7 linked regions of the Homo sapiens genome follow. The protein of the gene in region 1 purifies or fractionates together with the protein of each later gene. This does not show direct contact. Each region holds a gene or a part of one and is shown in the gene's direction. Other genes may lie near its edges.

Region 1 (3,500 bases):
TATGTTGTCCAGGCTGATCTGTAACTCCTGGGCTCAAGTAATCCTCCTGCCTCCGCCTCCCAAAGTGAAGGGATTACAGGCATGAGCCACTATGCCCGGCCGGGGTTTTTTACAGACATTTCTGAATGACCCAAATTCTGCACATATTCCTTAATGGGTGGATTTATGTCTTTGTGGTCCCCACAGTACCCTGAAGAGGTTCAGAGACTCAGAACCTGGAGGGTGCTCCATGAAAGATCGTTAACAGTAATGATTCCTAAACTCCCAGAGCCGCTGAGTATTAAATCGTCAATTAGAGAGACATCAGCTGGGGAATCCACCGTGCATGACGCTTAGCACCTGTGCCTCATTCAGCCCTCGCCACTTCTTGCCTGAGGCTCAGAGACATTAAAGAACTTGTCAGCTGGGTGCAGTGGCTCATGCCCAGCATTTTGGGAGGCCAAGGCAGGAGGATCATTTGAGCCCAAGAGTTCACGACCAGCCTGGGCAACATAGCAAGACTCTGTCTCTACTAAAAATTAAAAAAAAAAAAATGAGCCAGGTGCGGTAATGCACGCGTGTAGTTCCAGCCACTCAGGAAGCTGTGGTGGGAGGATCACATGAGCCTGGGAGATTGAGGTTGCAGTGGGCTATGATCGCACCATTGCACTTCGGCTTGGCTGATAGAGCTAGACTCTGTCTCAAAAAAAAAAAAAAAAAAGAACTTGTCCACTTCCCACCATACCAGCAGGGGTGGGAGGCAGACGGAGACCCTGTTCTCTTAGTGGAATCTCAGTTCCCCTCCTTAGGCCAAGCCATCCAGAAGGAGCTCACTCAGACCCAGCGCAGGGTCCAGGCCCTGCCCTACCATGGCCCTAATGAGGCAGAGATTATCCCCTTTCCTGCTATAAAAGTAGGAACAAGACTGAGCTCATTTTCTCCGGGGTTCAAGTGTTTAAATCATTGCCTATTCTTTAGAGAAACGGTGTTCTTCCTGCAAAATAATTAATGACGTGTAAATTTGTATAACTCTCATGATTCCCTCCGTTTTGAATGTGGAAACCATTTGTAGGAGTACCCTGGTGAGAATGAAGTCCCCACAGTCCTTGGTTCACACATAGGAGCGTGACCTTCCGAGCACAGTGGTAGGTGGGCCAGGGGGTGCCCAGGCCCCGGGATCCTGAGTCCTTGGCTCCTTGCAGGCTGGCCGGTGCTTCTGGCGCTCACAGGGGTGCCCGCCCTGCTGCAGCTGCTGACCCTGCCCTTCTTCCCCGAAAGCCCCCGCTACTCCCTGATTCAGAAAGGAGATGAAGCCACAGCGCGACAAGGTATGAAGTCGCCGGCTACTCTCCCAGGCCCTGCCCACCCCGGGGGCCAGGCAGAGACACGGTCAGGGCCACAGTCAGGGTCGCCATGGGTCAGGGGTGAGAGCTGGGAGCTGAACGGGGTGGGGGGGTGGCAACTGGGGCACAACCAAGGTCAGGTCAGGGAATGGTGAGCTCAGGGCCAGCATGGGGGCTTGGGGCCCAGCCTGCAGGGAGACGGCCCTCTGAGCGGGTGGTTCTGCTTTCCGCAGCTCTGAGGAGGCTGAGAGGCCACACGGACATGGAGGCCGAGCTGGAGGACATGCGTGCGGAGGCCCGGGCCGAGCGCGCCGAGGGCCACCTGTCTGTGCTGCACCTCTGTGCCCTGCGGTCCCTGCGCTGGCAGCTCCTCTCCATCATCGTGCTCATGGCCGGCCAGCAGCTGTCGGGCATCAATGCGGTATGTGGGACGGTGGCCAGGCAGGGAGACAGATGAAGCAGACCCAGGCTTCATGGATAGCAACACACAGTTCCACCCACAGAGGCCTGGCCTGGCAGTGGGGCCAGGATCAGTCCAGGCAGAGCCAGATGTCAGGAAGAAACCTCACTCCTCTCTGCCTCCGTGCTCTGCCTCTCCCCACATGCCAGCTTCATTTTTCTCTGTTTCCCAGTCCCCAGAAGGAATGCCTCCTGCCAATAGTCCTTTCCCTTCTATACAAGAGACCAGCTAGACTGAGATGAGCTGAGGTCTCCTGGGTCCAAGCTCAGGTCACCAGGCCTGGGTTGGTAGGCCCAGCCTGTGTCAGGAGCCCATCTTGGGCCCACTTGTCTGTGATGTTTGTGGCATCGCTTTCTGCGACCGTGGCTCTTTGGCTGTAACTGTATCTAACCATGGTGTGAGGGAAGGGTGGAGATCTGACAGAAGCTAAAACACTGGAGATTGGGTGGGTGACCCAGTTGCTCCAGTGGCGTGTCGGGAAGAGGTGGCCTTGGCCTCAGGGATTCATGGATGTTTAACCAGTGATCGTGGGAGGGTAGATGGCCCAGGTGGGAGCCACCAGATGTGGAATAGCACACGTGGCCTTTCAAAGGGCTGTTTGTGCCAATGTCCTTGGCATGGGGCCAGAAGACAGACTCAACTTGCGGTTGGCTTGGCCCAGAGTGAGAGGTAAGAAGTCATTCTTTGGGATCTGAGCTCTTAGAGTAACTGAATGATGGAGGGAAAAGTGCTCTTGGAGGTCGTATGGTCTGACTTCCATTTTATAGACGCCAAACCTGAGGCCCAGAGAGGGAGGAGCTGCGACCCTGGATTCCAGGGCAGCGCCGGGCTCCACCCTGGTGTCCCGACTCCAGGTCAGGCCTCTTTTTCCCACCACCTGCTACCCTCTTCCTGTCCCAGGGTCCCCAACCCAGGCTTGCAGAACTGTGTGTGGCTTGAGTTGAGAAAGTTAAGCCAGCGTCCTGGGTCTTCCGGCCTGTCCTGACAGCCCTGTGTTTTTGTTTAGATCAACTACTATGCGGACACCATCTACACATCTGCGGGCGTGGAGGCCGCTCACTCCCAATATGTAACGGTGGGCTCTGGCGTCGTCAACATAGTGATGACCATCACCTCGGTGAGTGAGCAGGAGGCATCCTTCCTGCTGGAGGGTCTCTGGCCAGGTGCCGCCAGGCAGACAGGAGCCCCACAGAGTGAACTGAGTGCTGGTGGCCCTGGTCCTGGGGTCATTTAAGGGACATGGACTTTAGGATGCACACATACTAACTACCTGCATGACTTTGACCAGAAAACTCAAAATTCCTTCAGAGCCGGCCGGGCGCGGCGGCTCACACTTGTAATCCCAGCACTTCGGAAGGCCAAGGCGAGCAGATCACTTGAGGTCAGGGAGTTTGAGACCAGCCTGGCCAACATGATGAAACCCAGTCTCTACTAAAAATACAAAAAAATTAGCCAGGTGTGGTGGCACACACTTGTAATCCCAGCACTTTGGGAGACTGAGGCAGGTGGATGACTTGAGGTCAGGAGTTTGAGACCAGCCTGGTCAACATGGTGAAACCCCATCTCTATTAAAAAATACAAAAATGAGCTGGGCATGGTGGTGGGTACCTGTAATGTCAGCTACTTGGGAGGCCGAGTCAGGAGAATCACTTGAACTTGGGAGGTGGAGATTGCAGTGAGCAGGGAGATGGCACCACTGCACTCCAGCCTGGGTGACA
Region 2 (3,500 bases), on another chromosome or scaffold:
GCTTTCCACTGTTACCATTAGTTCTTAGAGGTGCAGGGACTATAGCAACTACTTAATCTTTTTTGAAATTATTTGAAACTGAACAATGCAACTGTTTCTAAATATAAACAAATATTACCTTTGAGCCACAAATCACTTTCTGGAATTATTGTGGGAGATAATATTTGATACTTCTATGTGAGGAAATTGGTAGACAAAAAATTAAGCCATGTTGTCCACATATACAACTCTCAGTGATTATTGTAAACAGTATGGTAGCATTTAAAATATTTAACAATTTAATATTTTTTGGTGTTCGATACTGATTCCTGTGCTTTCGTTTAATAATTTGTAAACTGTTTTTGTTGTTGTTGTTGTTTTTTAAAGGAGAAAGTGTTCCAGTGACAAAGACTAATTTGCCAAATCCTTCAGTGGATGTGAAAGGAATAGGAGATGAATTATATAATCCAGAAACACATAAACGACATACTTTGTTTTGTGGGACAACTGTTATTCAGACTCGTTTCTACACTGGAGAACTCGTCAAAGCCATAGTTGTTAGAACAGGTAGGAAACATCTTAATTAATCTCTTTTTGCATGTTTCAGCATATTTGATACCTACTAAATGTTTAAAAAGAGATTCTGGGCTGGGTGCTGTGGCTAACGCCTGTAATCCCAGCACTTTGGGAAGCCGAGGTGGGCGGATCATGAGGTCAGGAGATTGAGACCATCCTGGCTAACATGGTGAAACCCCGTCTCTACCAAAATTACAAAAAAATTAGCCGGGCCTGGTGGCGGGCGCCTGCAGTCCCAGCTACTCGGGAGGCTGAGGCAGGAGAATGGCGTGAACCCAGGAGGCGGAGCTTGCAGTGAGTCGAGATCACACCACTGTACTCCAGCCTGGGTGACAGAGCGAGACTCTGTCTCAAAAAAAAAAAAAGAGAGATTCTGTTTTGGGAGATAATTCTCATTTTCTTATAAAAATATCAATAATTGTCTTCTTTTTTTGAAAGGATTTAGTACTTCCAAAGGACAGCTTGTTCGTTCCATATTGTATCCCAAACCAACTGATTTTAAACTCTACAGAGATGCCTACTTGTTTCTACTATGTCTTGTGGCAGTTGCTGGCATTGGGTTTATCTACACTATTATTAATAGCATTTTAAATGAGGTATGTATGTGGGACTCTTAATAGGGTTTGAACCTCAATTATTTATCATATGCAGCTATTGAGGATTTGAAATGTGGCTACTGAGAATGAGGAACTAAAATTTTAAGCTAATTTAATTTTAATTAATTTAATGCTAACAAAGTCATGAGACTAGTAGCTATGATATTAGAAAGCCCAGCTATAGAACATTTCCATTGTAAAGGATACTTCTTTTGGGTGCCTCTGGTTTAGATGGTCTTTTACTTGGTCTTGTGACTTTAAAAAAAAAAAACAGGAAAAAAAACCCCCCCACATAATCACCAAAAGCTTTATTTTCTCTTTTTTACCTCTGAGATGTAATATACAGTGTTAAAATGATTTGTGGTTAGTTAATTGAAGGCGCCGCTTGTCAGAAGTGGAGAGTGGTACAGTAAGGTGTGTGCACGCTGAGTCAATATCTGATAATGATTGTTGACCGGCTTTGAAGTGTGTCATGTGTGAAGTATGTAGCGCCTTGAAAATGAGATAAGTTTCTTTTGAAAGTAGCTGTCATTCTATAATCCATTGAGCTTTTTTATTTTGCAGAAATATCTGAAGAAAAAAATTATATATGGTTAATAGATATGTATATACACACACATACATAAAATTGAAATATACAATTGAAAATGGCTTACAGATTTTCACTAAAGAAATACCCATATTAAATCCGTAAATAATACTGGGGATTTGACATTTATTTTTGTGTTAATTGTAGGTACAAGTTGGGGTCATAATTATCGAGTCTCTTGATATTATCACAATTACTGTGCCCCCTGCACTTCCTGCTGCAATGACTGCTGGTATTGTGTATGCTCAGAGAAGACTGAAAAAAATCGGTATTTTCTGTATCAGTCCTCAAAGAATAAATATTTGTGGACAGCTCAATCTTGTTTGCTTTGACAAGGTGGGTTCAGTTTCATAGTTACTTTCAAAGGTTACTTCGTAGCGTTTAAATATTTAGATCAATGTTTTTTATTTTCTTTGTCAACAAATTTGGACACATTCTGTCATGTTCCTCTAATTTTCCTTTTCCTCCACTTATTTGGTATATGCATCATTTTTCTATACCATAAGTTCTCACTTAACATTACTGATAGGTTCTTGAAAACTGCAACTTTAAATGAAATGAAACCAGTTTTACCATAGGCTAATTGATACAAATGAGATTTAAGTTCCTATGCCATATTTTGGTCACAAAAAATCACCAAACTTCTAAATAAAGATCTAAAACACTTCTGATATTAATCATTGAAATAAATATGAGCTATACATTCATTTAAGAAAGAAATAAAAACAAGTAAGGTAATTATTTACCCAGTTGTTTTATTTCAGGCTCCTGGGTAGTGGGAGCGTATCTCAGCAACTGGCGGAACGAGGCAGGAACCAGCCCTAGACAGGATGCCATCGTATCGCAGGGTGTACTCACACTCGCGCAGACTGGGACCATTTAAATGTGCTGGTTCACTTAACTTGCGTAGCTTTGATGTGGGAGGAAACTGAAGTACCTGGAGTGAAACCCATGCAGACAGGGAGAGAACATGCAAACTCCATGTAGATAGTGGTCGCGGCTGGGCCTCAGCTCTCCCCACCACTGGCACCCATCGTGTTATAAAAAAAGACGGACAAAACAATCGTATTTGAGGACATGCTATATTTCTTATTTTCTCAATTTTTAATACTTTGGATATTGCTTATTTGCTCAAAGCTTCAGTTAACTCCAGAATTAGGCCTAGTAGTATTAATAGTAGTAGCAGTAAAGATTACGTGACCTTTAATTTTTTAGACAGTAATTCTTATTTAACACAATAGGCTCCATACATATATATTTATTATGATTTTATTGCTTGTAAGTGTGTATGTTTAGTGTTTGCTGTATGATTTTATTGAATATGTTTAAGAATTATGAAGGTCACTGATTTTATGTGAAAATGACAAATTATGTACCTGTGTGAAGTATATCTTGCCTCTTAGAAAGGTTTCTCCTTTCCTGAGCTGGAATTTTCTTTAAAGTTTTCTGAGAATTAAACTTTGACCAGAAAACCTTCTATCAAACTTTTCTGGGTAACTGATGTGATACAAATTTGATTTTTGTGCATTTCATTATTACAGAAAAAAATGGGAAACATGTTCTGTTAGAAAAAAATATGTCACATACTGCTACAATTATTTCATATTTATCAGTTCAAAAAATTTCACTTATGCTTGTCTTTTTTGGAAACTTTCCTAAAAGTTTTAAGACAAAAGTGGAGAAAAGATGTGTGTATAATAAACACTCATTTACTCATTACCCAGCTTTATCAGTTATCAACACATTGTCAGTCTTATTTT
Region 3 (3,160 bases), on another chromosome or scaffold:
GCAGTTTTTTGTAAGACTCTGTGGTATTGTTGGAGGAATCTTTTCAACAACAGGTTAACAACCATTTCCTTTTTGTCTAATTTCTGAAAGTGTTGCTTATACTTAAGTTGCTTCTTCTCAAAGGGGCAAGAAGTATACAGATTTTCATGTTTCGGTGTTTAAATAGCTTTTGCTTTAATTACAAAACTCCAAAATTATATTGACTAACCAGTAAACATAACTAATTTCATTGTATTCAATGATGTAAGGTAGATTATATAATGGTGAGTTGGAAAGATCCTGGGTGTTAACATCAGATTGAAGTAGAATTGAATGTAAGTTCTGTCATTTACTTGGTGGTAGCTTGGAATAGATCACCTACCTTTTCTGAGGTTTTCTAATCAGTAAAAATAGCAATAATAATACCTAATTTGCAAGTGTGCTATAGGATTAAATATGAAAATGCCTAGAAGGCATTTAAGACATTTTTAACTGTACAGTATGTAAAATCATATGTTATAGTACTTTGAATTATGCAATACATGAAACTAGATTTGTAATCAGTAACATGTTTATGATTTTTGTCCTGAGATCCTGGAATTCGCTAAGATTATTTGTCGAATTGTAATGATGAAAATTGGGAGTTAAGTACAATAGAGAAAAAGGAAACAATTCTATTTTCATCTTCAGTCCTTATTCAGTATTAGATGGAGCTGGGTAGTTTATTATACTTAGAATCATATTTTTAAATGAATGAATAGCTTTTCTTTCGAAATTCTTTGTTAGTGCTTCATTTCAATCTATTTAAATTTGTGTTGTTGACATCATTTATTTTCCAAAATTGTATTGGTGTGGGAAAACCTTGAAAAGATTGTGTTTAGGCCCGGTGCAGTGGCTCATGCCTATAATCCCAACACTTTGGGAGGCCAAGGCTGGCGGATCAACTTGAGGCCAGAAGTTCCAGATCAGCCTGGCCAACATGGCTAAACCCCGTCTCTACTGAAAATATAAAAAATTAGCCGGGCATGGTGGTACATGCCTGTAATCCCAGCTAATTGGGAGGCTGAAGCACAAGAATTGCTTGAGCTGGGAGGTGGAGGTTGCAGTGAGCCAAGATTGCACCACTGCACTCCAGCCTGGGCAACAGAGTGAGACGTCTCAAAAAAAAAAAGATTGTGCTGAGATCGTGAATTATGTGGCCTTGTGACTTTGAAAAGAAATCCATTTGTTTTAAAATCTTTCTTGATTATTTTTAACCATGGAAGTGAATAATGCAAACTGCTTTGTTTTCTTCCGTAATCTATTCCATTATAGTTATTTATTCTTAAATAACAGTTTAGGAAATAATTAAAAGCATAAACTTATTGTTTATTACAGGCATGTTACATGGAATTGGAAAATTTATAGTTGAAATAATTTGCTGTCGTTTCAGACTTGGATCCTATAAACCTGTCAATTCTGTAAGTGGTGTAGTATACATGGTGCTGATCTCTAAATCTTAGAATCATTGTTAAGTCTATGAGCCAGTCATGGTGGCTCACACCTGTAATCCCAAGACTTTGGGAGGCTAAGGCGGGAGGATCGCTTGAGCCCAGGAGTTTGAGACCAGTCAAGGCAACATAGTGAGAGCCCCATTTCTACAAAAGATAGAAAAAATTAGCTAGGCAAGGTGGTGCAAGCCTGTAGTCCCAGCTACTTGGGAGGGCACAGTGGGAGGATCACTTGAGCCCAGGAAGTTGAGGTTGTAGTGAGCTATGATCGTACGTACCACTGCACTCCAGCCTGGGTGACAGAGCAGACCCTGCCTCAAAAAAGATAGAGATAGAGAGATAGAGAAATAGGGGGAGAGAGAGAGAGAAATAGTAGCTTTTGGTTACTAGAAAGGATTGCCCAAAATAAAACCTTGTGTTTAGAGGAAAGAGTATAAGGAATAAAACTAATTCTTTGGTCTTTTTTTCCCTCCTTTTCTCCTTAGGTTCCTTTTGAGGATGGCCACACAGACAACCACTTACCTCTTTTAGAAAATAATACACATTAACACCTCCCGATTGAAGGAGAAAAACTTTTTGCCTGAGACATAAAACCTTTTTTTAATAATAAAATATTGTGCAATATATTCAAAGAAAAGAAAACACAAATAAGCAGAAAACATACTTATTTTAAAAAAGAAAAAAAAGGATAAAAAAACCCAAACTGAAATTCTATATACGTTGTGTCTGTTACAAATGTCGTAGAAGAAATCATGCAGCTAAACGATGAAGAAGCCCAACTGGAGTGTTGCTTTGAAGATGACGCCTTCTTATATTTTCATAGCAAATGGGTGGTATCAAAATCAGACATTGCTTCTTGCTGATAAAAAGCCTGAAGGAAATAAGTGAAACTACATCTATGGGAAAAAAAAAAACATTGAGAAGTGCAAATGTTCGCATCCTTTTGTTTTTAAAAGATATGATGTCAGAATAAAATGTGGAAAACATACGGAAAACTAGTCTAGACTTTAAAGAATTGTGATCAGGTCACATTGTTAATAAAAAAAAAAAACGGGCTAGTCCCTATGTTATAGCCATATTAATGTTAAGCCATATTGACAAGACCAGTTATCCAATAATTTGGTCTTAAAAAGTAACTACTTTTCTTTGAACTCTGGTTATTGACTTATCTAACTGTTGAAGATAGAGTCTTAGAAGACTAAGGTAAATTCTCACAGGGGCAGATATGTAGGTGTTATGTAACTAGGGTGTCATTCACAAATGGTATAGTAGAATCTTATACACGGAAAAGAAAGCACATTTTTTTAAAAAAGATGCCAAGTTTTTTAATCTAATCATTATATTATTGGTGTATTTTGGGCAACATAGGGTGAGTTATAAAAAGATCCGCTACTGATAGTGAAAATTACCGGTTTGTAAAACATTAAGAGAAAAAATAGGATATTTTATACATGTGGTGAGTGGAGAACAGGGTAACTTTAAATGAAAGTGTAAGGCAAATTGTAAGCACCACAAGATATATCAGATTTGAGAGGTGCCATGTTAAACATTGTCCATTAAACTATAAAACTGTATTATGAAGTATTTGCATTCAGGGTGTCCTGAATATGATTGATTCTGTATTAGATTGTGTTCTAACTTTCTTACTATTTAAGGATTGGTTCTAAATCTTCACATTATAAAAGATTAAA
Region 4 (3,500 bases), on another chromosome or scaffold:
CACTTGTCTAGAAGAGAAAACAACAGGTTAGTCTTCCTCAAGCACTTAAAGCGGCTTTTTGTTTTGCTTTTCCTATGGGCCTTAAGACTTTTTGGAGACTGCCGAGAACTTAGGAAACTTGCATTCTGTTGGAGAGTTTTTTTCCTTGATTCTCACAGCTATCTTATGGTGTCCTCTGTTGTCGGCTTCTATAGCCTTCGATTTTTTGGAAACTTTACTCCCAAGAAAGATGACACAACTATGACAAAGGTAAGGTAGAATCTTAGGTGACTGTGGCCTCTCGTTTGCCTTCCCTGACAGACTGCTTTATTTAATAGTCATTCTGAATGGTTCATTTGCAGTGATAGGTATTTGTTTGTAAGTTGCGTAAACACAAACTGGAAGATTTTCAAAATGCTGAGTGAGTGGGAAAGGGATGTACCCTGTTTAATTTGGATGGCGTCCATTCACTGTAAATGCGGAGAACTGCAGAGCTTGTTAACTAGCTATAGAAGGCTCCTGAAAGGACTCTTTTTCCTCTAAAGAAAACGTATTGCTAATGAGTAACTTGGATTGTGCTAACTGTACTTCAGGGAGCTTGTTTGAAGTCTGAAGAACTTAGTTGCTACAAGTAGTAGGGACAAAGTATTTCAAATTTGAATAATTAAAGTAAGACGGAAGAGTTCTATTCAGAAACATTTTGTAGTCTGAGGCTAATTTGACTTTTTCCACAACATGTCATTGGGTTCAGAATAAAAAGGCTGTTGCCGTATATAGTGACTGAATCTTTATAAAATATTCCCGTAGGCTGACAAAGAAGAATAACTAATAAGAGCTGAAAGCTTGTTTTGTTTTTATTTTATATTTTTAGCCTACTTAAAGGGGAGAAGTTATTTTACACACACACACACACACACACACACACACACACACACACACAGCTATTTCTTTAAACTTAATAAGTAGTTGAGATATTTAGTATCTAGTTTAAGTGATCATAAATATTAATTGATATTTTCAACTCCTCTTATTTACTATGGAAGAATAAACATGGGATGCATTATTACAAAAGTTTAGAGGTTTTGGATTTCTGGTGCTTTTTAAATCTTACAATTAACATTAGAAATAGATGTGATAAAAGAGATCTTAAGCAATAATCTGGCCTTAAAAATGTAGTCAGAAGTATCCAATATGTTAATTATTTTTTGCTTGACAGGCAGAGCCTTTTGAAAGTAACAGCTGCAATCAGTAATGTAAAGTGCATTATCTAGGTGTCAAGTAATTTAAGTATTCTATAACTATATCTGTGCTAGGTACTGTAAACATCTTCTAGAACTTACAGATATAACTTTATTTATTTTAAAAGTGTGTTATTCTTTGAAAATTCTGTACTGAATAGTATCATTAAGAAATCGGCAAAGTACACTAGGTAACTAGAATGCACAATCATTTCTCAGAATGTTACTGGGTTTGATTGTCATCCTGCTGTTTAACTGCCCAATATTCTTTCTCGTTTCTCATAACAGATCATTGGAAATTGTGTGTCCATCTTGGTTTTGAGCTCTGCTCTGCCTGTGATGTCGAGAACACTGGGTAAGTTTCAGTGAGAAATTTTCACTTAAAGATCCATGTTTTTAAAAACTGTCTTTACTGAACTTATTTAACATTTACTCATAAAGATTACCTTTGAAATACAGTGTTTCTTCCTACATTATTTTACACTTTTACTTCTATACTTTATGTATAGGGGCATACCAAGACAAATACTTTTATCAAATAATGACTACTTATTTTTTAAACACTTAAAAGCATTCTTTCTCCAAACAACGGGCTGGTTTTTGTTGTATTTTGTTTTTACTGACACATCTATAAGTTAGGCTTTCGAGTCCTCTAGTGAGGAAACTGCATTAAACTAATTTTTCTATTTAAAAGCTTTTGAGCGTTTATAATTTAGTATGGTTTAAAAAATTGAAAATTTGTAAATTATTTTAAGCTGCTTTGTGTCCACAAAATAGAGGTGAACGCAGTGTAATCTCTGAGAACACACTCTGATTCAAAGGACACCCTTGAGAGTTCCTACTTGCCTGTCATTCATTTCTGTCATTTTCTTATTGTTTCAGTTTACGGAGAATTTGATAATCTTTTAAAAGAAAAACAGATTTTTGCTTTGTCATTGAAATAGTTGAGTAAGTCTTCCCTTAGTTGTCTTTTATAAAATGCTATTGTAGACCATATTCTGAGTTCTTCACTAAATATTATTTCAGACAAAAGTTTCCATTAAGCATTTCTATCTAATTCTCTAGACTTAGGTTTTGACTTAAGAGTGCACACGAATGATTGGAAAATTTTGATCATTAAATTTTAGCTACTTGCTCATAACAAAAATTGCTGGTAACTTTGAGTTGCTTTTGCATTAGCTCTCATATTGCCTCCATTATTTATTGAAGACTTACAGATACCAGGGATGCAGGCTGTGCAAAGAAAGTAGAAGCTTTGTAGTTATCTTCATAATTCTTACAAAGGATTTCATGTTTGTAATAGAAAACAAAAAGTATAAATGTAAAGGGACCACTGTTCCATAAGCTAATAAAAAACTGGTGTGTGTAATAGTCTTATTTCTTTTGTGTTTGCTTTATAGGACTTGTAATTGTTTTGACATCTGCTTATGTGAATCTTGAAAATGCCAAAAGTATGCTCTTTAGCAACCTGATTTGATGTTAAATGTTATCATTTATATTATGACAGTCTATTAAATAATTTCTGTTATATTTCAGCCAACCTATCATTTTAATACTTAGGAAACTCATTCACTGTACTATTATTTAAGATTGATTGCTAATCATTAATATATACCGATTTTATGGAAGAAAATTACATGCTGAGTATAGTTTTAACACAAAGAAAACAAACTAATGGTAAAATTTACTTTTTGAAGGCCAACAAATTAAATTCCAGAGTAGTTTGCCATAGAGATAAATAAAAAGAAAAAAAAGAAAGATGGAACAATTAAAATGCAGCTAACAAATGCCTGGACCCAGCTGTCCAAACAGGATTAATGGAGTGCATTAGGGTACAGTGAGTCATGTGGTGCTTTGCAAAATATCAACACGCACTGCATTACATGTTATGCCCAGTGGCATTGAATAGATGAAAAGAAATAAATACGTTAAACAGATTCATAGAGGCTTTTCACAGTATTAAAAAAGCAAATTTCTAGACTAAAAGAAAAAGCTTTATTTTAGCATTATGGGAAATGCAAACTAGAGAGTTACTTTGTAATTCCTCTATTAACCCTTTAGAATTGAGTCTTTGATTTTAAGAAGATAAAATATAGGGAATTGTCATGAATATTATCCTAGTGTATAACAGGATTTTGATTTACCAGCTGAAAAGCTTATAAGACTAGAATAGAGGATGTATTTAAGCAATCAGATTCCAAGCTGTGACATTTTTCAGTCTTTCTTGTCGCCTCTCTCAAGGAAACCCTGACCTTAGTGTGGTCTCCTTTGCTCCTGTGAAAT
Region 5 (3,500 bases), on another chromosome or scaffold:
TCAGAGGCTTTACAGTGGCTTCTAAGGCCCCACGTTACCTCAGCACTCTGCTGCACCTGTGCCGGCTACCTTGCTGTTCCTCAGACCAGGCAGACATAGGTTTCCACCTCAGAGCCTTCACGAAGCTCACTGTTTTATCTGCTAAGAAGGTCTGCCCCTCATTTACATGGCTAGTTCCCTTACCTCCCTCCGATCTTTACAAAATGTGATCTTCCCATTGAACCCCTCCCAGCCATCACATATGTTACATCCTGTCCTGCACACACCCATACATCCTGTTTTTCTGTACAGCGCTTATTACCATCTAATGTACAGTATACTTTCCTGACTTATTTTGTTTATTGTCTGCCTTCCCAATGAGATCATGTACTCCTGAGAGTAGGAATTTTTCTGTTACACTCACTGTGGTATCTGGTGTTTTAAACAGAGCCGAGCTTATAGTTGGTGCTCAATGAATGTTTACATCCATGCTTACTGTATTAGCAAAGTAGCTAGAATATGAGAGCTAATGCCATTTGCTTATTGTGGAGATCATTAAGAGTAGGATGAAGAGGATAGAATGTGACTAAAAATCGTCATCAAGTCAGATCACAAAGCTTGACTTAGAGTAGAATTAGGTAGCAATCACATTGTCTTTGTAAAGTTTCTCAATAAGTATATTTGTAGACCTTAATGTCATAAATTTAAGAAACTGACATATAAGACAGTTCAGCAAAGCCATATTAAGCTCCATGAGTCAAGCTGTATTCTTCAAAATTGAAATAGGTACTAACATTTTTAAGTTTAAAAAAAACCTGTTTTCTGTAACAGCATATTCAACAGTGAACAAACTGTCTATAGTTGTCTTGTTGATACCATGAGACAATCGAACTGATTTCATTCCCCTTTTAGGAAGATGCCCAGGAAGAATTTGGCTGGAAACTTGTTCATGGTGATATATTCCGTCCTCCAAGAAAAGGGATGCTGCTATCAGTCTTTCTAGGATCCGGGACACAGATTTTAATTATGACCTTTGTGACTCTATGTAAGTGTTAACTGAAAATTTTCAAGTAGAAAATACTTTCTAAATACAGTAATTGCTTAAAAACCAGTTTTTCTGGCCGGGCATGGTGGCTCATGCCTGTAATCCTAGCACTTTGGGAGGCCAAGGCGGGTGGATGACAAGGTCAGGAGTTTGAGACCAGACTGGCCAATATAGTGAAACCCCGTCTTTCTACTAAAAATACAAAAACTGGGCATGGTGGCAGGTGCCTGTAATCCCAGCTACTTGTGGGGCTGAGGCAGTAGCTTGAACCTGGGAGGCGGAGGTTGTAGTGAACTGAGATTGCGCCACTGCACTCCAGCCTGGGTGACAGTGCAAGACTCCATCTCAAAAAAAAAAACAAAAAACACCACAGTTTTTCTAAGTGGGTAGGTAAGCCAGATTATTTCTGAGCATCCTTTAGGTTCTCAAAATCTAAGTGACTTGGGGCAGGTTTAGTTGCACCCAAAGACTGACTCTTGGTTTCTCCCTTCAGCTCTTCCTAGACCAAGCCTTTGTCAGGGAGGCACTGGGCTGGAGATGAACAGGTCCTTAAGACCATCAGCATCTGAGTCTAAACAGCCCAGAACTGGGACCATTTAGGGTCTCTTTTACCCAGGCATCGTGGGCAGGCACAGTCTGGTTAGGGTTCCAGGATATTCTTGGCTTCCACGGAGGGAGGAGGGTGGGAAAAGAAGGGATGGGGCAGGAAGCACTGTGTAGATCCTTCTCATCTGGGGAGGATTTGGGAAGCAGGATCTCTCTCCTCTAGGGAAAGCGAGTGTGTAGGAAAGACCTTCCTTCCTCCATAAAAAGATTCTCTTCTTTGAGCTACCTCAGCGACTTCAGAAATTGTATTTAAATTTTTGCCAACTAGGACAATTTTTTTTTTTAAATAAATGTTCCTTAGAGGTATTGATAGCCACAGGGATTGTTCTGAAACTACCTCTGGGTATATGTTAATTCCACTGTCTTCCAGTTTCCTTAATTGGAAGATAAAAAAGGTTTATGAATAGAATTTTCTAAATTTTACCTTTATTTAATGTATTTTACTTTATTGATGCCTGCTACTGATAAATAGCAACAAATGAATATACTGGGAGAATTCAGAAACTAACCTTTAATAATTTTTTAGTAAACATTTATTTTTTATGTTTGATTACATATTAAATACATAATACCACAGTTATTTTTGTTAGTAAAGTTGTTCCAAATTTTTATGATAAAATTAATTATATAAATGCTTTGCAAAGAGCAGTATCATTTTCAAATGTCTGGCACTGAATAAGTTTGGGAACCAAACTCACACCTTCAGGTTCAGTTTGAAGACTGACTAGGATATCTTTTTTTTTTAATCTACTAACAACTTAAGGAGATACAATTTTGATAGGTAGAGCTAGAATTTGTAACTATATCATACTAAAGAGAAGTTAAGTCATACTAAAGAGAATAGGTCAGGAAAAGGTGTCATAAAAAAGGTTTGGACAGAGGGTGGTAGGGTGAAGGCACTGGGTGACAGAGAGCCAAACTAGACTTAGAGCAGAATGAATGTTTGAAGATAAACTTCTGCTTTCTTTCTTTCTTTTTTTTTTTGAGACGGAGCCTCGCTCTGTCACCAGGCTGGAGTTCAGTGGCGTGATCTTGGCTTACTGAAACCTCCACCTCCTAGGTCCAAGTGATTCTTCTGCCTCAGCCTCCTGAGTAGCTGGGATTACAGGCGCCTGCCACCACGCCTGGCTGATTTTTGTATTTTTGGTAGAGACACGGTTTCACCATGTTGTCCAGGATGGTCTCAATCTCTCAACCTCGTGATCCGCCCGCCTCGGCCTCCCAAAGTGCTGGGGTTACAGGCGTGAGCTACCACACCCAGCCAACTCCTGCTTTCAAATCTTATTAGGAGCTGTCTTCTGCGATGCTCTGGTTTTTATTGCGGTCAGCTAGAAAAGTGAACTTTTAAGGAAGGAAAGTTTCAGAGAGTCTAGGATAGAATACGATGGGAATAATTTTCCTTAAGTCCTCAAATAGGAACTTTCTGCCGAAGGGCAGTCCATTTTTCAGGTCGAGGAGGAGAAAGGGGTTGCATTTTAGCTGAAATCTTGTACATCTTCTAAAGCTACCCTGATGTGTTTCCTGCTCATCATGACTCTGGTGCTTGTCAGAGGTGTGTGCGCGTGCTTGCTCACATACGTGCTTGGTCATGCACGTTTTAGGGGAAACAATAGGGGGGGAAACAATGGGGATTTTCTTGCTGAGCCTCCTGAAACTCAGTTCTCAGCAGTATCCTACTCACCTTGGGATTCTGAGCACCTTATAACTTCTGAGCCCCAGCTTAAAGCTGGGAATTTCTATGAATATAATATAGCATTTTAATTCTCATTAGTAGGAAGGCTTACATAGGGAAGAGCAAACAAAGCTAACCACGTGAATAAGGTAGGGCCAGGGTTTCCCCGTATTGCTGACAAGGTCCTTCCGTAATTTG
Region 6 (3,394 bases), on another chromosome or scaffold:
TATAGACAGCATTGACAGCCCTGGGGGCCATGAGATTCCTTTGGGAGCAGTAGGGGGCGTGGCGCGTCCTGGGCTGAGAGCAGAGCAGGAGGCGGTGCAGGAGCCTGAGATGAGGACAGAGTGAACCCAGGCTGGTGGAAGGAGGGCATCCTTGAGCACCCAGGTAGGAGTGCAGCCCTCTGGGATGGGCCTCTCTTAGAAACGTTTGTTGCTTTCCATTGAACCAATCTCCCAGGAATCGACTGCATCCTTCAGTGTTGGGTGGGCTGAAAACACCCCACCTTAACACCAACACCAAAACATTGTTTAATGGCCCAGGATTAGGATGCAGGGAAAATAGAGCCTGGAGAAAGCTGACTCACTGTCAGCTGTAACAGACTCACCAGGACTCCAGCCAAGCTTAGCACCCCCAAACAGCAGAATGTTGGGGGGCAGCCCTTCCATCCTGCAGCGGTTCACTCAGTCACTTGTGCATTCCCCAAGTGTCTGCTGAGCAGCTGCTCTGGGCCAGGCTCTGTTGTTAAGCCACAAACAAGGCAGATGCCATCCGGGAGGGGCACGCTGGAGTAGCCGGTGAGACCGGAGGAGCAGTAGCAGCAGAAGCCCAGCCTGGAAGGAAGGGCTGGCTCCGTGGCCTGGCTGTCCTTTATGGAGGTCTTTGGAGTTGAGCCAGGTGCAGTGAGACCTGTGCATAGGTTTGAGCAGGGGCCTGGCCTGATCACATGCCCCCAGGTCTGAATGAGGCCACCAGCTCAGCGAGATCTCACCCCACACAGCCCTGGGGTCAAGGCCTGCAGCACTTTGTCCTTTTTGTGACTTGATGGGCAACAGCTTTAGCAGGCGATGTCCCAGGCGGCTTCCACACCACAATCCTGTACCAGAAAAGGCCTAAATAATGAGGCAACATCTGCATTGGCTACGAAAACTGAATTCTGTTTCTTTTCATTAAAAACGTCAAATTATTCTCAATTTCTGTGTTACCCCTAATTCAGAAACCAGTCTGGGGATAAAGGCCTGAGTGAGAATAGCTGACCATCTGCCGTCTGGCAGATGTGGCTTTCCCGAATGCAGAGAAAATCCGAACCAGATTTCAGATGGGGTGCTAGAAAATTCCAATGTGGAGCTTTTTGGCTTACTTTTTTTTATTATTATTTTAAATAGGAACGGGGAGTATCACTCTGTTGCCCAGGTTGGTCTCGAACACCTGAGCTCAAGCGATCAGCCCGCCTCGGCCTCCCAAAGTGCTGGAATTACAGCCGTGGACCACCAAACCTGGCCCTGGCTCACTTTTTGCACTGGAGAGGTGATGAGGTTGGCATCATTTCAGCTGATTCCGAAGCACTGTGCTTTGCCTAGCTGAGCCCCTGGAGGGCTGAAAGAAAGTCACCGAAAAAAGGTGATTAATTGTCTAAACGACAGAGCCAGAGAGGAAATATTTTTAGCTTTCCAGGCCTGGTCTCTGCTGCCGTGACACAACTGTGCCCTTACAGCATGAAACTTAAACCAGTAAAATTTTATTAACCAAAACTAGCAGAGAGCTGGGGTTAGCCCCTCAGCAAGCCCTGACACCTTGTCTAAACCCAGAAAACCAAATCCTAGGTCGAACCTTGGCCCCAGAAATGCTTCAGAACTCCTAATGTGTCCACCTGCTCACATAGGCAGGGGTGGACAGGTGTTGGATGAACCCCAGGGTCTGCCTGGCAGCTCAGCGCTCCGTCTGCTGCCCCCTATAGGGATGGCAGTACAAGGTGGGCCAGCTACCATTGGCGGCTGTGCTGACACTGGCCTGTGCGAGGCCAGGCAGAGGCCTCCCCATCAACTCCTGGCTTCTAGAAGCAGGAGGGGGCCCAGGCTGAGGGGCCAGGGAGCAAAGAGAGGCAGCAAGGACTTGAGTGCGTGAGGCAAGGTGGAGAAGCCAGAGGAGGGAAGGGCTCGCTCCTGGAGCAGTGCCCTGCCGGAGGGTCAGGGGGCTTAAGGGCTGCCGTGCGCTCAGCTGGGGGCAGAGGGCCACTGTGCCGGGGGAGTCTGGGGCACAGCGGGAGCTCTTTCATGCGGGAAGTTCCGCTGATCTGAGGTCTGCAAACTCCTGTGGGGAGGGATGGCCAGGGAACAACACAGAGCGGAGCCCGGGAGGCAGCAGAGACGCAAGTTTTGGAATGTCTGACTGGAAGATGGAGGAGGAGACGGGAGAGAGGACAGGCGGAGTGAGGTCAGAAGAGCAGGGGCACCAGATTGAACCAGACCCAGTCAGACACGGGGGCTGTGAGGAGGCCACAGGGGCATCTGAGCAGAGACAGGCTTTAGTGGGTGCAAATCAAAAGTGTGGCCATTTTCGGTCTCAGATACCTCCAGCTGGGGACTGCTGGGCTCTCTGGCCTGGAGCTCTGAGTACAGGCCTGGGCCACAGTTTCTGGTTATAGCCAGATGGGCCCCAGCACTGTGGCCAGGGTGGAGAGGTATGGACAGAGAGGAGGAGGGACAGAGCCAGGCCAGAGCTCTGGGGCACCCAGGGACAGAAGAGAGGGCAGTGGAGGAGATGGGGCCAGGGCAGCTGGTGAGGTGGAAGAGGGCCAGGCAGGGGCAATGTCAGGAAGCCATGAGAAGCTTCCAGAAAGAGGGATGATCTTCTGTGTTGAGTGCCCTGAGGGATCAAATCAGACGAAGATGCAGAAGTGGCCAGTGGAGTTAGCCGCAGGGAGACCCTCGACATGGCAGGTCCCGGCTCCAGCCATGGGAGCTGGGGGATGGAGGGAGACCCATGCGAGAAAGGCCGGCAGTGCCCATAGGCTGGGAACTTGCTCATACCAGCAGGTACTTCGGACTTTCTGGTAAGATCGAGAAGACATCCCACTCACCAGCATTCTCTCCTTTTCAAATCATCTTTCTTTTCTACCAAATTGGAATTCAGATTGGGCAGAGACCCCAGAGGTCACCAAAGCCACTCGTCTCCCCAGGACAGGGAACTGCGGGGTCACAGCCAAGAGCCTAGTGCAGCACTCTCAAGTTCCAGAATACCTGCCCAGCTCAGCCTAGAGAAAGACACTGCCATCTTTTCCTGCATGCGGATCGGTTGACGAGACCAAGGCCCACACCTGAAAACTCTTTCCAAAGGCAGGCAGAGCCATCCCATTCCGTAGCAGCCCTCCAACAAATGGGTGGACATTTCTCATGCCATGACCCCCAGCCATTGACGTGGGTGGAATTTACCAGCACCAGCCGGCCACTGACTGTCTCCTTCCTTCCTTCCTACCTTCCTTCCACGTTTCCTTTCCTTTCCCTTCCTTTCCTCCCTCCCTGCTCCCACCTCGCGCCCTGTCCCTCCACCTCCCACTCCAGATCCGGGTGGTGAAAGCGTTCCGTAGCTCGCTCTATGAAGGCCTGGAGAAACCAGAAT
Region 7 (3,500 bases), on another chromosome or scaffold:
GAGTAGATCAACAGAGAATTTATGAGAGGAAAAACAACTGATTTGCCAGAATAATCATAATGATAATCTTTGATCTTTATCAGAAAGTAAAGAAATGCAGACTAAAGCAAGCTGTCACTCCCCCACTGCCCGCCACCACCGAGACGGATTGTTGCTCTGTCACCCAGGCTGGAGTGCAGTGGCGCAATCTCGGCTCACTGCAGCCTCTGCCTCCTGGGTTCAAGTGATTCTCTTGCCTCAGCCTCCCAAGTAGCTGGGATTACAGGCACCCACCACCACGCCCAGCTAATTTTTGTATTTTTAGTAGAGACAGGGTTTCACCATTTTGGCCAGGCTGGTCTCGAACTCCTGACCTCGTGATCTGCCTGCCTCAGCCTCCCAAAGTGCTGGGATTACAGGTGTGAGCCAACGCACCTGGCCAAGATGTCACTTTTATTCCTTTATCAGGTTAACAAGGATGAAAAGCCAACTACATGATACTGTTGAGGTGCAACAAGACCTGCAGGCTCAAGTGTATGGCTGGTGGCAGTATAACCCCATGAAAGTTATTTCTCAATGCATATCAAGAACTTTAAATGTTTCCTTTTAAGTACTGAGTTTACTCCTGGGAAGGTATACTAAGGACATAATTTTAATTTTAAACAAAGGTTTAAACAGAAATAACCTTTCACTAGCATATCAAAAATTTCAAAACACCCTAAATATCTAATAATAATGGAAGAATGATTAAGTAAATTTTTATGCCTACTTTCTGAAGTACTATGGAGATACTTTAAATGTTTATGAAGATTTTGGAATAATATGGAAACTTTTAATAAATACTAATTAAGGTTCTGATCTAAATACTAGAGATAAAAAAGCTGCGTAAGAACCCTCAAGGAACTTAAAATTAAGGGAGTGGTTCCAAGATGACCAATTAGGAACAGCTCCAGTCTACAGCTCCCAGCGTGAGCGACGCAGAAGACAGGTGATTTCTGCATTTCCAACGAGGTACCAAGTTCATTTCACTGGGGCTTGTCAGACCGTGGGGGCAGGACAGTGGGTGCAGCCCACTGTGTGTGAGCCAAAGAAGCGCAAGGAGTCAGGGAATTCCCTTTCCTAGCCAAGGGAAGCGGTGACAGACAGCACCTGGAAAATTGGGTCCCTCCCACCCTAATACTGTGCTTTTCCAATGGTCTTAGCAAACAGCACACCAGGAGATTATATCTCTGACCTGGCTCAGAGGGTGCCACACCCACGGAGCCTTGCTCATTGCTAGCACAGCAGTCTGAGATCTGCAAGGTGGCAGTGAGGCTGGGGGAGGGGCGCCCGCCATTGATGAAGCTTGAGTAAGTAAACAAAGAGGCCAGGAAGCTCGAACTGGGTGGAGCCCACCGCAGCTCAAGGAGGCCTGTGTGCCTCTGTAGACTCCACCTCGGAGGGCAGGGCATAGCCTGAAACCTCTGCAGACTTAAATGTCCCTGTCGGACAGCTTTGAAGTGAGTAGTGGTTCTCCCAGCACAGAGTTTGAGAACAGACAGATTGCCCCCTCAAGTGGGTCCCTGACCCCCGAGTAGCCTAACTGGGAGGCACCCTCCAGTAGGGGCAGACTGACACCTCACATGGCCCAGTACCCCGCTGAGAAAAAGCTTCCAGAGGAATGAATGATCAGGCAGCAACATTTGCTGTTCAGCAATATTCGCTGTTCTGCCACCTCTGCTGCTGATGCCCAGGCAAACAGGGTCTGGAGCGGACCTCCATCAAAATCCAACAGACCTGCAGCTGAGGGTCCTGACTGTTAGAAGGAAAACTGACAAACAGAAAGGACATCCACAACAAAACCCCATCTGTCCGACTCCATCATCAAAGACCAAAGGTAGATAAAACCACAAAGATGGGGAAAAAACAGAGCAGAAAAGCTGAAAAGTCTAAAAATCAGAGCACCTCTCCCCCTGCAAAGAAACGCAGCTCCTCGCCAGCAAAGGAACAAAGCTGGATGGAGAATGACTTTCACAAGTTGAGAGAAGAAGTCTTCAGATGATCAAACTTCTCCGAGCTAAAGGACGAAGTTCAAACCCATTGCAAAGAAGCTAAAAACCTTGAAAAAAGATTAGCTGAATGGCTAACTAGAATAACCAATGTAGAGAAGTCCTTAAATGACCTGTTGGAGCTGAAAACCATGGCACAAGAACTACGTGATGATGCACAAGCTTCAGTAGCCGATTTGATCAACTGGAAGAAAGGGTATCAGTGATGGAAGATCAAATGTATGAAATTAAGTGAGAAGAGAAGTTTAGAGAAAAAAGAGTAAAAAGAACGAACAAAGGCTCCAAGAAATATGGGACTATGTGCAAATACCAAATCTATGTCTGATTGGTGTACCTGAAAGTGACAGGGAGAATGGAACCAAGTTGGAAAACACTCTGCAGGATATTATCCAGGAGAAGTTCCCCAACGTAGCAAGGCAGGCCAACATTCAAATTCAGGAAATACAGAGAACGCCACAAAGATACTCCTCAAGAGGAGCAACTCCAAGACATGTAATTGTCAGATTCACCAAAGTTGAAATGAAGGAAAAAATGTTAAGGGCAGCCAGAGAGAAAAGTCAGGTTACCCACAAAGGGAAGCCCATCAGCGTATCTCTCAGCAGAAACTCTACAAACCAGAAGAGAGTGAGGACCAATATTCAACATTCTTAAAGAAAAGAATTTTCAACCCAGAATTTCATATCCAGCCAAACTAAGCTTCATAAATGAAGGAGAAATAAAATACTTGACAGACAAGCAAATGCTGAGAGATTTTGTCACCACCAGGCCTGCCCTAAAAGAGCTCCTGAAGGAAGCACTAAACATGGAAAGGAACAACTGGTACCAGCCACTGCAAAAACATGCCAAATTGTAAAGACCATTGAGGCTAGGAAGAAACTGCATCAACTAATGAGCAAAATAACCAGCTAACATCATGATGACAGGATCAAATTCACACATAACAATATTAACCTTAAATGTAAGTGGGCTAAATGCTCCAATTAAAAGACAGACTGGCAAATTGTCAAGACCCATCAGTGTGCTGTATTCAGGAGACCCAGCTCATGTACAGAGACACACATAGGCTCAAAATAAAGGGATGGAGGAAGATCTACCAAGCAAATGGAAAACAAAAAAAGGCAGGGTTTGCAATCCTAGTTTCTGATAAAACAGACTTTAAACAACAAAGATCAAAAGAGACAAAGAAGGCCATTACATAATGGTAAAGGGATCAATTCAACAAGAACAGCTAACTATCCTAAACATATATGCACCCAATACAGGAGCACCCAGATTCATAAAGCAAGTCCTTGGAGACCTACAAAGACACTTAGACTCCCACGCAATAAAAATGGGAGACTTTAACACCCCACTGTCAACATTAGACAGATCAACAAGACAGAAAGTTAACAAGCATATCCAGGAATTGAACTCACCTCTGCACCAAGCGGACCTAATAGACCTCTACAGAACTCTCCATCCCAAATCAACAGA

Evidence for each region.
Region 2: the proteins of SLC2A7 (region 1) and ATP13A3 purify together in Homo sapiens (affinity purification with mass spectrometry; one large-scale study listed by BioGRID and IntAct). This does not show direct contact.
Region 3: the proteins of SLC2A7 (region 1) and ERGIC2 purify together in Homo sapiens (affinity purification with mass spectrometry; one large-scale study listed by BioGRID and IntAct). This does not show direct contact.
Region 4: the proteins of SLC2A7 (region 1) and LMBR1 purify together in Homo sapiens (affinity purification with mass spectrometry; one large-scale study listed by BioGRID and IntAct). This does not show direct contact.
Region 5: the proteins of SLC2A7 (region 1) and TM9SF2 purify together in Homo sapiens (affinity purification with mass spectrometry; one large-scale study listed by BioGRID and IntAct). This does not show direct contact.
Region 6: the proteins of SLC2A7 (region 1) and ATP2B3 purify together in Homo sapiens (affinity purification with mass spectrometry; one large-scale study listed by BioGRID and IntAct). This does not show direct contact.
Region 7: the proteins of SLC2A7 (region 1) and RABL3 purify together in Homo sapiens (affinity purification with mass spectrometry; one large-scale study listed by BioGRID and IntAct). This does not show direct contact.

What each region holds. Positions count from the first base shown.
Region 1 is NC_000001.11:9,012,924-9,016,423, reverse strand, and holds part of SLC2A7 (solute carrier family 2, facilitated glucose transporter member 7), read left to right. Parts: intron 1-1,181; coding exon 1,182-1,307; intron 1,308-1,555; coding exon 1,556-1,743; intron 1,744-2,788; coding exon 2,789-2,899; intron 2,900-3,500. UniProt on the Homo sapiens protein: Probable sugar transporter. Even if its physiological substrate is subject to discussion, it is able to transport glucose and fructose. Does not transport galactose, 2-deoxy-d-glucose and xylose.
Region 2 is NC_000003.12:194,445,503-194,449,002, reverse strand, and holds part of ATP13A3 (polyamine-transporting ATPase 13A3), read left to right. Parts: intron 1-366; coding exon 367-546; intron 547-993; coding exon 994-1,151; intron 1,152-1,887; coding exon 1,888-2,076; intron 2,077-3,500. UniProt on the Homo sapiens protein: ATP-driven pump involved in endocytosis-dependent polyamine transport. Uses ATP as an energy source to transfer polyamine precursor putrescine from the endosomal compartment to the cytosol.
Region 3 is NC_000012.12:29,340,013-29,343,172, reverse strand, and holds part of ERGIC2 (endoplasmic reticulum-Golgi intermediate compartment protein 2), read left to right. Parts: coding exon 1-53; intron 54-1,356; coding exon 1,357-1,439; intron 1,440-1,954; coding exon 1,955-2,017; 3' UTR 2,018-3,160. UniProt on the Homo sapiens protein: Possible role in transport between endoplasmic reticulum and Golgi.
Region 4 is NC_000007.14:156,722,184-156,725,683, reverse strand, and holds part of LMBR1 (limb region 1 protein homolog), read left to right. Parts: intron 1-158; coding exon 159-249; intron 250-1,505; coding exon 1,506-1,572; intron 1,573-3,500. UniProt on the Homo sapiens protein: Putative membrane receptor.
Region 5 is NC_000013.11:99,542,972-99,546,471, forward strand, and holds part of TM9SF2 (transmembrane 9 superfamily member 2 precursor), read left to right. Parts: intron 1-891; coding exon 892-1,024; intron 1,025-3,500. UniProt on the Homo sapiens protein: In the intracellular compartments, may function as a channel or small molecule transporter.
Region 6 is NC_000023.11:153,576,642-153,580,035, forward strand, and holds part of ATP2B3 (plasma membrane calcium-transporting ATPase 3), read left to right. Parts: intron 1-3,336; coding exon 3,337-3,394. UniProt on the Homo sapiens protein: ATP-driven Ca(2+) ion pump involved in the maintenance of basal intracellular Ca(2+) levels at the presynaptic terminals. Uses ATP as an energy source to transport cytosolic Ca(2+) ions across the plasma membrane to the extracellular compartment.
Region 7 is NC_000003.12:120,736,017-120,739,516, reverse strand, and holds part of RABL3 (rab-like protein 3), read left to right. Parts: intron 1-849; exon of another isoform or gene 850-990; intron 991-3,500. UniProt on the Homo sapiens protein: Required for KRAS signaling regulation and modulation of cell proliferation. Regulator of KRAS prenylation, and probably prenylation of other small GTPases. Required for lymphocyte development and function. Not required for myeloid cell development.